2 separate regions of the Homo sapiens genome follow, and region 2 is linked to region 1. The links come from fine-mapping of genetic effects on gene expression. A gene starts in region 1. The other region holds a variant in brackets. All regions are shown on one strand. Distances are between the middles of the regions.

The links. PIP is the estimated chance that this variant, and not a neighbour inherited with it, causes the effect. A credible set is the group of variants that fine-mapping cannot tell apart.
Region 2: its variant is the best candidate, but not a certain one, in a credible set for the expression of REXO5 in pancreas (GTEx, PIP 0.83).

What each region holds. Positions count from the first base shown.
Region 1 is chr16:20,804,205-20,809,583 of GRCh38, reverse strand. REXO5 (RNA exonuclease 5) reads right to left here and starts at 3,057. Exons shown (of 20, transcript NM_030941.3): 1 at 2,879-3,057; 2 at 2,493-2,632. The coding sequence starts at 2,630. ERI2 (ERI1 exoribonuclease family member 2) reads left to right here and starts at 3,112. Exons shown (of 9, transcript NM_001142725.2): 1 at 3,112-3,176. The coding sequence starts at 3,154. RefSeq lists enhancers at 2,253-2,392, 3,113-3,222, 2,971-3,916.
Region 2 is chr16:20,630,377-20,635,755 of GRCh38, reverse strand. The region is part of intron 10 of ACSM1 (acyl-CoA synthetase medium chain family member 1); the gene reads left to right. Among named protein-coding and RNA genes, the nearest start is that of ACSM2B, 57 kb to the right of the region's middle. The variant C/G (reference allele first, on the strand shown) is at 2,060.

The DNA.
Region 1 (5,379 bases):
AGATGTATATAACCTGAATCTAATCAATGAAGAAACAGACAAATCTAATTTAAGGGACATTCAACAAAATAATTGGCCCAGGATTATTCAAATGCAGTAAAGTCATGAATATCAAGGGAAGACTAAGGAACTGTTTGATGGAGACATGACAATTAAATTTAACACAATTCTAGACTGGATCTTATTGCTAAAAAGCGTTATTCAAACAACTACAGAAAATTTGGATGGCATCTGAGGAGTAGATGGTCATGATATATCCATGGTAATTTCCAATTTTGATGGTTGCATTGTGATTATGTAGGTTTATAGAGAATATATAATAAAATATCTTGAGGGTGGGTAGAAAAAGACCATTGTGTCAGCAACTACTTTCAAATGTTGGTTGAGGGGAGGTTTTGATACTATTCTTACAACTTTTCTAAAAGTTTGAGATTGTTTCAACATAACAAAATATGTGATTGTCAATCTCCTTACACTAACCACATAAACATTAAACATTTTTTTGCAAATTTGATAGGCAAAAAAACTGGAATCCCACTTTAATAAAAAAAATTTTCAGCTGGGTGCAGTGGCTCACACATGTAATCCCCAGCACTATGGGAGGCTGAGGCAGGTGAATCTCCTGATCCCAGGAGTTGGAGACCCTGTCTCTCTTTAAAAAAAAACAAACGAAAAAAAAACAAAAAAAAGCAGTGGCTCATGCCTGTAATCCCAGAACTTGCAGAGGCCAAGGTGGACAGATCGCTTAAGTCCAGGAGTTCAAGACCAGCCTGGGCAACATGGCAAAACCCCGTCTCTACAAAAAAAAGAAAAATTAGCTGGCACAGTGGCACACATCTGTAGTCCCATCTAATTGGTGGAACTGAGGTGGGAGGATCACTTCAACCTGGGAGGCAAAAGTTGCAGTGAGCCAAATCCAGCCTGGGCAACAGAGGGAGACTCCACCTCAAAAAAAAAAAAAAAAAAAAAAATCACATCCCTAATCCCTCTCTCACATATTATAACTTATTTTTATCATTTGTCTCTGCCCACTAGAATATAAGACCTACTAGGGCAGTGAACTTGATTCACTGATGTACCCCAAGCACCTAGGTCAGTGCCCCAGCACATGGCAGACAATAAAAACCAATGAATAGCTGGGTGCAGTGGCTCATGCCTGTAAGAGGCAGAGACAGGAGGATCCTTGTCACACCACTGTAGTCCAGCCTGAGTCCAGCAGAGCAGAGACCCTGTCTCAAACACAAAAACAAACAAAAAAGCCCAATGAACGACTGAAGGGATGAATGAAGTATATTTAGTTCTCAGTAAATGGTAAGGATGATAGGGATAATCAGCCTTTTTATTCCCCTATTGCAGCGGTCCCCAACCGTTGGCACCAGGGACCGGTTTCGTGTTAGATAATCTTTCCACTGACTGGGAGAAGGGCTGGGGGGATGGTTTCGGGGTGATTCAAGTGCATTACATTTATCATTAGAGTCTCATAAGCAGCATGCCACCTAGGACCCTCGTATGCAAAGTTCACAATAGGGCTCACAATAGGTTTGGCACATTCCTATGAGAATCTAATGCCTAGGTGGAGCTCAGGGGGTAACGTTCTATCGGCCACCGCTCACCTCCTGCTGCTTTGTGGCCCGGTTCCTAACAGGCCAGCTGTGGACAGTGGGTTGGGGACCCCATGGACAGGCAGGTACTAGTCTGTGCACAGGGGGTTGGGGACCCCCGCCCTACTGGAATGTAAACTGCACGAGGGCAAGGAATTGTATTTTTGTGCCCCAGGATATCGATGAACATTCCTATTATGTACAGGCAGTTTTTTTTTTGTTTTGTTTTTTGTTTTTTTTTTTTAAGAGATGGGGTCCTTGCTATATTGCCCAGGCTGGTCTTGAATTCCTGGCCTCAAATGATGCTCCCGCCTTGGCCTCCCAAACTGCTGGGATTACAGGCGTGAGCCACTGCACCCGGCCCACCATCCCAGTTTTTTTTTTTTTTTTTTTTTTTCTGAGACGTGATTTCTTTCTTGTTGTCCAGGGTGGAGTGTAATGGCGTGGTCTTGGCTCATTGCAACCTCTGGTTCCTGGGTTCTAGCGATTCTCCTGCCTCAGCCTCCCAAGTAGGTGGGATTACAGTCACCCACTACCACGCCTGGCTAATTTTGTGTGTGTGTTTTTGGTAGAGACGGGGATTTCTCCATGTTGACAAGGCTGGTCTCGAACTCCTGACCTCGTGATCCGCCCGCCTCGGCCTCCCAAAGTGCTGGAATTACAGGCATGAGCCACCGCACTCGGCCGACTCACTATCCCAGTGACAGCCAATGACAGCCTTGTTGCAGGAAGGTGGTATTACACTCATTCCCATTTTAATGATCAGGGATCAGGTTCGGAGAGGCCAGGGCGGAGAGCCCGCCCGAATCCAGTGCCCCCGACGGCGGTTGGGCGAGGGTCCGGGAGCTCCAAACCGCCTAGGGCCGCCTGCTCGGGATCCCCGTTGCTCACCTTGGCCTCGGGCTGACTCTCCTCGAGATCCCAACCGGCTTTCATCGCCTCAGCTGCCCCGACCAGCTTATTTGGGGCCTGCCTGCTTTCCCTGACCTTCCTGGGGTGTCTCTCGGTCCCTTCCCTCTCTGGCTCCATGGCTGTGGAGAAAGATGAGGTAGAGCTGGGGAAACTCCAGCGCCCCTATTCCCCCGCGTGCCGCCTCCTAGCGGGAGAGCTACACGGGCTTGACAGCTTTCAACCTCCCTCGGATCCGCTTCTCAATTCAGTTTACCGAACTATCCCCGTTCCCCTAAAAAAGCGAAGGTGCCAACGATCTCCCCGTTCCGCGGACTGGACACCCGCGCCGCTCTAACCCAAACGGCTTTACCGTCCGCATCGGTTACCGGATTCTCAACGGTTCCCCAACGGCTACAACGGGCGTCTGCCTGGCAAAGAAGGAAGGTGCTGCCGAGCGGCTTCGCCGCCTAAAACCACTCCCCACGCCCCCTAGCCCGGGAAACGCAGAAGAGAAGACGGGCGGGGAGCAGAGGTTCTCCCCTCCTTAGCCACAGCTGCCAACAACAACCGCCCCTCAGCCTCGCGGGCTTTTTGAACGGACCGGAAGTAGAAGTCGAGCGACTTCCGGCAGCTGGACTTGGAAAAGCAAGGAGTGTCGGGAATGGCGACCAAGCGGCTCGCGCGGTACTCGAGGGAGTTCCGGGTCGGGGGCGGGTAGCTCCGGGTCCAGCGCTGGCGTTGGCCGCAGAGCAGGGCACGGCAGGTGGCATCTGCGGTGAGGGCCTCTATTCCCCGCAGCCCCGGCGTCTGCGACCTGCCCTCTCTGGCACGGTTGGAAAGGCGCCTCCCTGGACCTCGGTCTTCAGCCTTGGGCCACCTTCTACCCGAGGGTGACAGGAGCCCGAGGCGGACGAACCCTGGGGCCTTGACTGTGTGGCCTTGAGCCAGTGCCTGCCTATTTTAGGCCTTGGGAAACGACTGGACGTGACAGTGCCCTGCAGACTGGTTGGAGGTCTCAGGCAGGCCACACACTGAATCTGTCAAGGTGTTCAACCTGTTCGAAATGCTCGTTCCTCGGTGCTGTAAAGAAATAGAACTTAAACTTAAATTTAATTTATTTAGTAAGGCCATTTTTACTTCCTGCAGAAAGGGTACACTCGCCAGCAGTTTTGCCAGGAGAGTACACTGAACAAAGGAGACAGGGTCATTTATAACGTGGCGCGTCCACCCTACTGCTGTGTCCGGTTTCCTTTGGCTGGAACGGGACCTCACATTCTGTATTTGTCCCGACTGACTAGCAACATAGAACTTTTTAAAAGAGGCAAAGGCAGAGGAGAACAAAGGAAGAAGGAAGTAACTTGTGGAATGCTGAGAAAGGTAAAAACACTTTTAAGTAAGGAAGAGGAACAGGCTATGACCTAATGTTTGATTGGACCAGTATAAGCATGCCAGGGCAAATATTTAGGCTAAATTGTGGGAGCTAAGAACATAAAGTACATTGATTTCTTTATTATATCTAGCAGATATTTAAGAATGTTAGCACAGGTCTTTGAATAAATTTTGCTCTAAGAGAAGTTACTATTTATTCCTAATTAGACGGGGAAGGAAGTCTTTGAAGAGGAACCTCTACTTTTTACAAACCCATTTTCTAGTGATCTTTTTTTTTTTTTTTGAGACGGAGTTTTGTTGCCTAGGCTAGAGTGCAGTGGTGCGATCTCGGCTTACCATAACCTCTGCCTCCCGGGTTCAAGTCATTCTCCTGCCTCAGCCTCCCAAGTAGCTGGGATTACAGGCATGCACCACCACACCCAGCTAATTTTGTATTTTTAGTAGAAATGGGGTTTCTCTATGTTGGTCAGACTGTTCTCGAACTCCCGACCTCAGGTGATCCACCCGCCTCAACCTCCCAAAGTGCTGGGGTTACAGGTGTGAGCCACGGTGCCTGGCCTAGTGATCCTTTTAATTCACAATATGAATTATTGTGTCCTCCCTGATTCCTGGATGCGCTGTGCATATTTCTGATTACTAGAAAGATGTAATATAATAGCAAATAGCATGAGCTTCAGAATTGGACAGTCTTGGGTTCACATACCAAAGCTATGTTCTTTGGCAAATTAAGAATCAGTTTTCTCATCCATAAAATATAGGTAGGAAAAGTTTCTAGCTACTACACTTGTTGAGGATTAAAGGAGGCCATCATCTTAGTTTAATTTTAGTACCTGCTATGTAGTAAGCAGTCAATAAATGATATTTATTATTCCCAAATCCTGGCACTTCCCACTCTTAGCAAACACAGAAAACTACAGGAGGTGTCTGCCTAGTTAAAACTCTACCTGCTAATACCAAGTAGTTTGTTTTACTTGCACTTAAGACCTCAGTAAGCTCTTCTCTTTTTTTCTTATTTTATTTTATTTATTTATTTTTTTGAGACAGGGTCTCGCTCTGTTGCCCATGCTGGAGTGCAGTGGCATGATCTCGGCTCACTGCAGTCTCCACCTCCCGGGCTCAAGCAATCCTCCCACCTTAGCCTCCTGAGTAGTTGGGACTACAGGTATGCACCATCACGCCCCAGCTAGGTTTTATAATTTTTGTAGAGACGGGGTTTCACCATGTTGCTCAGGCTGGTCTCGAACTCCGGAGCTCAAGCAATCCACCTGCCTTGGCCTCCCAAAGTGCTGGGATTACAGGCATGAGCCACTTTACCTGGCCCTATCTTTTGTTTCTTTACCCAGATTTTTAAACTGGAAGACTGAACCATGTCCTACATTGTCTTGTCTTCTTAAAACTGCACTGTACACATAGCAAGAGCTTAAAAAATGCAGGGGGAAAAATAAGATTTTCAGTGCATTTTTACCTCTACAATCAAATGATTGTAGGAACTCAAATG
Region 2 (5,379 bases), 170 kb after region 1:
AGGCAGGAGAATCACTTAAACCCGGGAGGCGGAGGTTGCAGTGAACCAAGATCGCACCACTGCACTCCAGCCTGTGTGACAGAGCTAGACACCATCTCAAAATGAAAGAAAGAAAGAAAGAAAGAAAGAAAGAAAGAAAGAAAGAAAGAAAGAAAGAAAGAAAGAAAGAAAGAAAAAGAAAAATTAAACATGGGGTAACACATATATTTTATATAATGTCCAGGCATCTTTGAGGACCACAGATATATATCTGCATATTACAATCATTTCAGGAGATTTTTTAAAATAGTAGTACTTGGATGCAACCAGAGATTCTGATTGAGCTGAAATGGGGATAATCCAAAGAAATATATTTAAAGAAAAAAACAAGGTCTTGCTCTGTCACCGAGCTGGAGTGCAGGAGCGTGATTAAAGTTCACTGTATCCTGGACCTCCTGAGCTCAAGTGATATTCCCAACTCAGCCTCCCAAGGAGCTGGGACCACGGGCAGGTACCACCATGCCCAGCTAATTTTTTGATTTTTTGTAGAGATAAGGTCTCACTATGTTGCCCAGACTACTTTCAAACTCCTGGGCACAAGTAACCCCCCTGCCTCAGCCTCCCAAAGTGCTGTGATTACAGATGTGAGCTATTGCACCCAGCTAATTTTTTTTTGATTGAGCATGACATATTTTATTTTCCAAAGAACTCCTAACATATACCCACACCTACGTATCCATGAAATGTCAGTATTCCTCCATTGGGACTTCTTTGGGTTTTTTTCCCTCCTTATTTATGTAAAAGAATTACAGAATTACCATGAGACCCAGCAATTCTACTTCTAAGGCTACTTACTACCAAGAAGTGGCAGCAGGAACTTGAACAGATACTTTATTTTTTACTTTATATTTTATTTATATAAAATGTAACATAAAATTACTCTTTTCACCATTTTTGAGTGTACAATTCAGTAGTATCAAATAAAGTAACAATGTTGTACAGCCATCACGATTACCCATCTTCAGAAAATGTTTACCATCCCAAACAGAAATTCTACTAATAAGCAACATCTCACTGCCCCAGTCTCCAGCACATGATAATCTCTAATCTGCTTTTTAAAATCTATGAATTTGCCTATTTTAGGTTCCTCATATAAGTGAAAATATACAACATTTGCCCTTTTGCGTTTGGCTTATTTCACTTAGCATAACGTTTTCAAGGTTCATCTATGTCTTAGCATGTAACAAAATGTCATTCCTCTGTAAGTCTGAATAAAATTCCACTGTATGTATACAACACATTTTGTGTACTCAGTTGTCTCTTAATGGACATTTTGGTTATTTCCACATTTTGCTTATTGAGAATGTTGCTTCTATGACCACTGTTGTTTAAGTATCTGTTCAAGTTCCTGCTTCCATTTCTTGGGAGTATAGACCTAGATGTGGAATTGCTGGGTTCCATGGTAATTCTATGTTGAACTTTTTGAAATAAATTACCAAACCACTTTCACAATGGCTGCACCATTTTATATACCCACCAGAATATTTTTGATCCATTTTGAGTTAACTTTTGTATGTGTTGTAAGGTAACTTCATTATTTTGCAATTGGGCATTGAAGTTTCCCAGCACTATTTGTTGACGACTGACCTTTCTCCATGGAATGGTTTTGGCACCTATACTTAAATCAATTGACAATATATGGGAGAGTTTCTTCCAGGACTCTCTATTCTATTGCAATGATCTGTCTGTCTTTATGCCAATACCACACTGTTTCTATTACTGTAGTTTTGTAGTAAGTTTTGAGGTCAGGAAGTGTGAGTTTTCCAACTTTATTCTCCTTTTTCAAAAATTTTTATTTCCTTTTATTTTTGAGGCCAGATTGCAAGACTGGCTAATTTTTGTATTTTTAGTAGAGACAGGGTTTCTCCATATTGCCCAGGTTTGTTTTGAACTCCTGGCCTCCAGCGATCCACCTGCCTTAGGCTTCCCAAAGTGCTGGGATTATGGATGTGAGCTACCGCGCCTGGCCTTTATTCACCTTTTTAAAGATTGTTTTGGCAGTTTGGGGTCCTTTGAGATT[C/G]TATATGCATTTTAGGATAGGTATTTCTAGTTCTGCAACAACAACAAAAAACCATTGGGATTTTGACAGGAATTGTGTTGCCTCTGTAGATAGCTTTGGGCAGTATTGTCATCTTAATATTAAGTCTCCAATAAATGAGTATCATATGTCTTTTCATTTACTTATCTCTTCTTTAATTTCTGTAGTAACGTTTTGTAGTTTTCAGTGTACAAGTCTTTTGCCTCCCTGATTAAATTTATTATGAGTACTACTGTCTTGTATTCTTTTTGATGCTATTGTAAATAGAATTGCTTTCTTAATTTCCTCTTTGGATTTTTAATTTTTAGTGCACAGAAGTGCAATTGAGTTTTTGTGTGTGTATGGATTCTGTTTTTTACAAGTTTACTGAATTTATGTATTAGCTTTAACATTTTTTTTGAGTGTGTAAAATTCTTCGGGTTTTCTATATATGGTCATGCCATCTGCATGCAGAGATAATTTTACTTCATCTTTCCAATTCAGATGCCTCTTATTTTTCTTTCTTGCCTGATTGATTTGGCTAGAGCTTCCGGGACTATGTAGAATAGAAGTGGTGAAAGCAGGCATCCTTGTGTTTTTGGTCTTAGGAGAAAATCTTTCCAACTTTCACCATTGAGAATAATATTAGCTGTTGGTTTTTTATATGTGGCCTCATCATGTTGAGGAAGTTTCCTAGTTTATTTAGTGTTTTTACCATGAAAGGGTATTGAGTTTTGTCAAGTGCTTTCTCTGCCTCAACTGAGAGAAAACCTTGTGGTTATTTTCTTTTCATCCTATTAATGTGGTTTATTATATTTGTTGACTTTTGTATGTTGAAACAGGAATAAATCCCACTTGGTCATGATGTATAATTCTTTTAAAGTGTTTCTGGATTTGGTTTGCTAGTGTTTTGCTGAGATTTTTGCATCAATATTCATAAGAGTTATTGGTCTGTAGTTTTCTTCTCTTGCAGTGTTTGTCTGGCTTTGGTGTCAGGGTAATGCTGGCCTCATAGATTGACTTATAAAATTTTTCCTTTTCTTTAATTTTGTAAAAAGAGTTGGAAAAGGATTGGTCTTAATTCTTCTTTAAATATTTGTCAGAACTCATCAGTGAAGCCATCTGGCCTAGGCCTTTTCTCTTTTGGAAGGTGTTGATAACTAATTTTACCTCCTTATGAGTTACAGATCTATTCAGAGTTCTATTTCTTTGTGACTCCTGTTTTTGGTAGATTGTGTGTTTCCAGTAGTTTTTCCATTTTATCTAGGTAATCAAACCTTTTAGCATACAATTGTTCATAGTATTCTCTTATAATTCTTTTCATTTCTGTAAAATGTTAGTAATTTAAATTTTCACTTTTTTATTAATCAATCTAGCTGAAGACTTGTCATCTCTTCAAAAGAAATAACTTTTGATTAAGTTTTCTTTGTTGTTTTTCTATTTGCCATTTTATTTATATGAACTCTAATCTTTATTTCCTGCTTCTGCTATGCTTGGGTTTAGTTTGCTCTTCTTATTCTGGTTCCCTAAAGTGTAAGGTTTTCGGCTTGAGATCTTTTTTAACGTATGTGCTAAAGACTGAATGTTTGTGTGTCCCCCAGATTCATATGTTGAAATCCTAACCCCCAATGCAATATTTGGAGATGATTATATCGTGAGCATGGGGTCCTCATGAATGGTGTTAGTGCCCTTTTAATTTTTTTATTTTAGTAGTTTTGGGGGTACAGGTGGTTGTTGGCTACATGGATAAGTTCTTTAGTGGTGATTTCTGAAATTTTAGTGCATCCATCACCTGAACAGTGTGGTCTTTTAACCCTTACCCCCTGCCAACTTTGCCCTCTAGTCCCCAAAGTCCATTATATCATTCTTTGCCTTTGTGCCTTCATAGCTTAGCTCCCACTTAGAAGTGAGAACATACGCTATTTGGTTTTCCATTTCTGAGTTACTTCACTTAGAATAATGGCCTCCAGCTCCTTCCAAGTTGCCACGAAAGACATGATTTCACAGCTTTTTATGGCTTAATAGCATCCCATGGTGTATATATACCACATTTTCTGTATCCACTCATTGGTTGATGGGCACTTTGGTTGGTTCCATATCTTTGCAATTGCAAATTGTGCTATAAACACGCATGTGCATATGTCTTTTTCATATAATGACTTCTTTTTATTTGGGTAGATACGCAGTAGTGGGATTGCTGGATCGAATGGTAGTTCTACTTTTAGTTCTTGAAGGAATCTCTATACTGTTTTCCATAGCAGCTGTACTAATTTACATTCCCACCAGCAGTGTAAAAGTGTTCCCACAACCATGCCAAAATCTATTGTTTTCTGATTTTTTTAACAATGACAATTTTTGCAGGAGTAAGGTAATATCTCATTGTGGTTTTAATTTGCATTTCCTTGATGATTAGTGATATTAGTGCCCTTTAAAAAGCAACTCCAGTAGGGTTCTCCAGAAGAGTCCCATTCTCCATGTGAGGCCCCATCAAGAAGACAGCCATCTATGAAGCCTCACCAGACACCAAATTTGTTGGTGACTTGATCTTGCATTCCCAGTCTCCAGAGCTCTAAGAGATAATATCTATTGTTTATAACCCACCCAGTTTATGGCATTTTGTTACAGCAGCCTGAATGGGCTAAGACAGTATGTGTGTAAATTACCTTTTTAGCACTGTGTTTGCTGCAATCTATAAGTTTTAATATGCTGTGTTTTTTATTTCATTTGTCTCAAGATAATTTCTAAATTTCCTCGTGACTTCTTCTTTGATTCATTGGTTAGTTAAGAGTATGTTGTTTAATTTTGCAAAGATTGGGAAAATTTGTGATTTTTTAAAAGTTTTCCTTCTGTTAATTCCTTTCATGTGACTTGATAAGATGCTTTGTATAATTTCTGTCTTTTAAAGTTAATTAATACTTCTCTTCTGGCCTAATATATGGTCCATCCTTGAGAATGTTCCATGTGCACTTGAGAAAAATGTGTGTTCTTCTGCCGTTGGATGGAGTTTCCTGTATATGTCTGCTAGATCCAGTTAATTTGTGGTGGTGTTCGAGTCCTCCATTTTCTTATTGATCTTCTCTCTGGTTTTTCTACTCGTTATTGAAAGTGGTATATTAAATTCTCCAACTATTGCTGTAGAACTGTACAGTTCTTCCTTAAATTCTGACAATGTTTGCTTCATGTATTTTGGGGCTCTGAGGTTTATTGCTTATATGTTTATGATTATTATATCTTCTTGGTGAATTGACCCTTCTATTAATAGACAATATCATTTTTTATCTTTTGCAATTATTTTTAACTTAAACTTTATTTTGACCGGGCAT